2 separate regions of the Homo sapiens genome follow, and region 2 is linked to region 1. Evidence: fine-mapped expression QTL. A gene starts in region 1. The other region holds a variant in brackets. All regions are shown on one strand. Distances are from middle to middle.

Region 1 (2,923 bases):
CCTGCCTCAGTCTCCTGAGTAGCTGGGATTACAAGCACCTGCCACCACACCCAGCTAATTTTTTTGTATTTTTAGTAGAGACAGGGTTTTGCCATATTGGCCAGGCTGGTCTCGAACTCCTGGGCTCAAGTGATCCTCCCACCTCGCCCTCCCAAAGTGCTGGGATTACAGGGGTGAGCCACCATGCCCAGCCAATAGGTGGGTTATTTTTAATCCTTTTATACAAATCCTTTCATACAAAGGATTTCACATTTCACTGAGGTCCAGTAACTGGACCCCCTAGTCTGGAGCTACTGTTTTGGTGTCCATTACCAGGGATGCCCCTTGTACCAGGCTGTGTGCGCCCCCCACACTGCTGCAGGGTGGAGCGCTGCTCTCTAAGCCTACTACGCCTGAGCTTTTGGCCCACACTGACTGCACCGCTGCATACATTATTTCACCATTCCCAACAGCACTCACTGAATCTATGCTCTGGGCTGAGCGGGGGATTACACAGAAGCAGAAGGAAGGCGCTGTAGAGATTAGAGCTGCCTAATGTCCCAATCTTTTCTCCTAGACATATTGGTTTGTATTTCCACCCACTTGAACTCATGCATAACTGAGTGACTTTTTTGGCCAATGAAATGTGAACAGAAGTGATGTGGGTCGCTTCTGGGCAGAAACATATAGATCCAGTATGTGGCTCACCACATTTTTGTACCCTGCCTCTGTGACTGTGGAAGCCTGGATCAAGAAGCTGCCTCTGCCAGTCTAGGTCTAGGTCTAAGTCTAGGTCTTTCAGTAACTACCATGACCCCATTTAGATCAGGATGGTCAGTCAGCATAAGCAAGAACTTTTGTATTGTTTTTGTTTTTTGAGATGGAGTCTCCCTCTGTCGCCCAGGCTGGGGTGCAGTGGTGCAATCTCAGCTCATGGCAACCTCCACCCCCCAGGTTCAAGTGATTCTCTGGCCTCAGCCTCCCAAGTAGCTGGGATCACAGGTATGTGCCACCACGCTTGGCTACTTTTTGTTTTTTTGGTACAGATGAGGGTTTTGCCATGTTGGCCAGACTGATCTCGAACTCCTGACCTCAGGTGATCCTCTCGCTTTGGCCTCCCAAAGCACTGAGATTACAGGCGTGAGCCACCGCAGCTGGCCAGAACTTTTGTATTTTAAAGCTTATGCCAACTGATAGTCTTTTCTCAAGGAGCTCACCAGCTAGTGGAGAGGCAATGTGGAACCACAGTCTAGAGATGTAAAGTACTGCACATGGCCAAGTAAGTGTTCAAGGGCTTAAATAAAATATGATAATCTCCTCATCCAATCTCTCTCCTATTGCTATCTTTCAGTCTGGTAGCATTAGCCAAAGCTCTCACATGTCTTAGGTGGGCTATCTCTAAATGGGTTAGTCTGCAACACTGGAATAATATGACATAAACATTTTCTTTTGTGTATGTGAGCATACGGCTTGAAATAAACTCTAATATTTGCAGCAGAGGAAATACCTTTCTCCACATCTCATACGTGTTCATTTTCTTGTTGAACAATTTCAAAATAAGAAACTTCCATAGCTGGTAATAATATCGATAGAACAGGAAAATATAGTTTAGCTGGATATTTTTGTTTTTACTTTTTAGAAGCCATACTAATAAAGGAGTATATTAAAGGAGCTTATCGTAAGCCTATCTTCTTACATAAATTTATCTCATAGATTTTTTTTTCTGCTTTCCTTCCTTCACCTCATCATAATATGGAATTATTTTCTCATTTCCCATCATAGTCATCATAATAATGTCCTACCCTATTGGACTCTGAACTATTTTCCACTATTCATTTTTTATTAGCGTTAAATTTTAACCAGAAGATTGGGATAAAAGGCAACATAGTACCATGCAAGCATAGCCACTTTGACAACGTTTCTGAGCCAGGGGTGACCATGACCTGCTGCGAAGGATGGACATCCTGCAATGGATTCAGCCTGCTGGTTCTACTGCTGTTAGGAGTAGTTCTCAATGCGATACCTCTAATTGTCAGCTTAGTTGAGGAAGACCAATTTTCTCAAAACCCCATCTCTTGCTTTGAGTGGTGGTTCCCAGGAATTATAGGAGCAGGTCTGATGGTGAGTGATATTTATTTGACTTGATGTGAAGAAGGGCCTGCCTATTTCACCAAAATCCTAAAAGCTGTCTTCCAGTCTTGCAGTTAACTATGTCTTGGCTTATGATAAAATTTGGAGCAGTAGTATGGCATTAATTTATATTGGTCATCAGTGAAGAATGGTAATTTAAATAAAGTACACTATGTGGTATAGGATAGAGAGCTGGGCAAAAAAATAAATTAATTAGTAGAAGTTGGCTGGGTTATTATCTCTCACATTTCTGTACAGGTAGGGCTGCTCTTTCAAGCTTTGTGGTTAGAGTTAGGGACCTTCTGAATTAATTCCTTCAACTTTCCATTGCTCCATACCAGTCTCTAAGTATTTACAGAAAATGCAATAGGAGTGACAGGTTGCTTAATAGGGATGAGTAGAAACATTCCCATGTATGATGACTAGCCTGGGTGATGGTAATTACGAGGCATGAATGCTGCATTGCCTGTACCTGAAGGGAGTTGGGCTAAGAGACATGGACTTAAAATCCTGGGTCTCTGGCCTCAAGGAATTTTTGACTCAGCTATTATATAGATCCTAGGACATCGAGCTTGTTGAATAGTTTGGTGATTGTTACTAGGTCTACCTCTGTTGAAATCTGCAGCAGAGCAGTGCAGGATGGAACTCCTAAATATAACTGACATGAATCACCCGAGGCACTTGCAATAGTTAGATTTACGGATTTTCTCCTGAGAATTCTGGGTGCAGTAGGCCTGGGTAGGACGCATTTGTATAGGGAAAACGGCTTTCAAATATGGCAGAATACCTCAGCTATGGTTCTGCCTCCCATATA
Region 2 (2,923 bases), 42 kb before region 1:
AATTCAGCATCATCTTTCCTGCATAAACTATAGCCATAAAGCATCATCTACAATTTCTGGTTTCATTTTCTTTAAAGTGGAGCATGAACGTAAGGAGATGTGTAAAGCAAAATTTCAAAAATTGTTCTTATCCTTTACAGTTAGGTCGTGCCCATGCCTAATTTAACAGCATTGTTTAAAAGCAATCCATTATTATCAAATCTTCTGAGGCATGTAATTTAGTTTTTTAAAAACAAACATCTCATTTTGCAGTAATTTTAGATTTACAGATAAATTGCAAAGATAGTACAGAGAGTCCCTGAATACCCGTCACCTAATCCTCCCAATTATTAACACCTACGTTACTCTGGTACATTCGTCAAAACTAAGAAACCAACAATGGCACATTATCATTAACTAAACTCTAGACTTCATTAGTATTTTACCACCGTTTTTTTTTTCTTTTGTTTTTTCTCTTTTTCTGAGATGGAATCTCACTCTGTTGCCAGGCTGGAGTGCAGTGGTGTGATCTTGGCTCACTGCAACTTCCGCCTCCCTGGTTCAAGCGATTCTTCTGCCTCAGCCTCCCGAGTAGCTGGGATTACAGGTGCCCACCACCATGCTCAGCTAATTTTTGTATTTTTAGTAGAGATAGGGTTTCATCATGTTGACCAGGCTGGTCTCACACTCCTGACCTCAGGTGATCTGCCTGCCTCGGCCTCCCAAAGTGCTGGGACCACAGGCATGAGCCACCGTGCCCAGCCTTTGCCACCTTTGTCATTGTTATCTGTCTGCCTCAGGATCCAATCCAAGGTTTCTCCTCACATGTAGTTGTCATATCTGCCCAGTCTCTTCTGGTCTGTGACAGTTTCTCAGTCTTTCCTTGTTTTTCATGACCTTGATAGTCTTGAGACATCCTGGCCAGGTATCCTATAGACTGTCTCCCAATATAGGTTTATCTGAAATTTTTTCCAGATTAGACTGGAGTTATGGGCTTGGGGACAGAATACAAGATAGGTGAAGTGCCCTTCTCAGCCACCTGGTATCTACTTGCATTACTGTTGATAGGAACCTTCCTATAATTAAGTTTTTATAAAAAATAATGCTCATCCTTTTATCACTCACATTTTATTGGTTTACATACTATTTCATTGAATAATGCAATCAGAAATATAAATAAAAATGTCATACACAGGACTGGGGACAAACACAACTGACTCTTGGTTAGTGTGAGTCTCACCTTGGC[G/A]AGGGGCTCCAACATAGGAGCATCCATCGCTGGGTTTTATGATGGAATGGGAAGCACTGGCTACTTCAATACTATAAGTTCATTAAGAAGCAAAATGAGGCTGGGTGCGGTGGGTCACGCCTGTAATCCCAGCACTTTGGGAGGCTGAGGCGGGCAGATCACCTGAGGTCAGGAGTTTGAGACCAGCCTGGCCAACATGGTGAAACCTCATCTCTACTAAAAACACAAAAATTGGCTAGACGTGGTGGTGGGCGCTTGTAATCCCAGCTACTTGGGAGGCTGAAGCAGGAGAATCACTTGAAGCCAGGAGGAGGAGGTTGCAGTGAGCCAAGATCTCACCATTGCACTCCAGCCTGGTCAACAAGATTAAAACTCCATCTAAAACAAAACAAAACAAAACGCCAAATGAGCATTAACCATTTATATTACAGATTGAGAGTTAGTTTGTTTATTTATTTATTTATTTATTTATTTATTTATTTATTTATTTATTTTTGAGATGGAGTCTCGCTCTGTCTACCAGGCTGGAGTACAATGGCACTACCGCCACCAAACCCGGCTAATTTTTGTATTTTTAGTAGAGACGGGGGTTTGCCATGTTGGCCAGGCTGGTCTCGAACTCCTGACCTCAGGTGATCTGCCCGCCTTGGCCTCCCAAAGTGCTGGGATTACAGGTGTAAGCCACCGCGCCCAGCCCAGATTGAGAATTTAAATCTCTCCCTCTGGTAAGTGGAGGTGTGTGGAGAGATTCTATTCTATTGGTTATTGTCTTTCCCTCCTCCCTGTGACCTGGCACTCAGTACAGTGCTTGGCACACAGTGGGAACTCATTACGTATTTCCTGAATGAATAAACAGAGGAAACTTTAGGTATGTGTCAATCACGGTCCAATAAGGAGATAGAAAATGCAACAGTTGGCCCGTCGCTGTGGCTCATCCTTGTAATCCCAGCACTTTGGGAGGCGGAGGAGGGCAGATGAGTTGTGGTCAGGAGTTGGAGACCAGTCTGGCCAACATGGTGAAAACCCGTCTCTACTAAAAATAAATATATGCAAAAATTAGCCAGACATGGTGGGCGCCTGTAGTCCCAGCTACTCGGGAGGGTGAGACAGGAGAATAGCTTGAACCTGGAAGGTGGAGGTTGCAGTGAGCCAAGATAGCACCACTGCACTCCAGTCTGGGTGACAGAGAGACTCCGTCTCAAAAAAAAAAAAAAAGCATGAGTTGTTTGAATAGAGAGGATTTAATTGTTAACTAAGCATAAATTTGCTGATAACATAAAATGCGCTAGGTAACATAAATGGCAAAAAGATAACGCAAAACTACCCTGGAGGTAGAAACTAGAGGAAGCAGTGGGAATTGGGGAGCGAAAGGAAGAGGCTCAAACTATTAAAGCTTAGATGTTTGGAGGAAGAGCCGTGTGGAGCTGAGCACCAGATTCTTAAGGAGGGCTACTGTACGTTCCAGCTGAGGTCTGCGAGGGGCTGTGAGGGGACCAGTTCTACAAGCATTGAAAATATTGCAGACTGGCTTCAGTGGTGGACTCGGGAAGGAACTGGTGCTACTGCTGAGCATGAAATGGTTAATGCTCATTTCACTTCTTAATGAAGCATTGCCTGGGTGCCATTCACAGGAGCAGAAAGTGGTCAGGAAAGAAGAGGGGCTTCCTCCTCCTCCGGCTGTGCGGTCTCTCTCTTGCA

The links.
Region 2: its variant is fine-mapped to the expression of TM4SF20 in fibroblasts (GTEx, PIP above 0.99).

What each region holds. Positions count from the first base shown.
Region 1 is chr2:227,378,263-227,381,185 of GRCh38, reverse strand. TM4SF20 (transmembrane 4 L six family member 20) reads left to right here and starts at 1,880. Exons shown (of 4, transcript NM_024795.4): 1 at 1,880-2,100. The coding sequence starts at 1,918.
Region 2 is chr2:227,420,416-227,423,338 of GRCh38, reverse strand. No RefSeq gene overlaps it. Among named protein-coding and RNA genes, the nearest start is that of SCYGR1, 34 kb to the right of the region's middle. The variant G/A (reference allele first, on the strand shown) is at 1,226.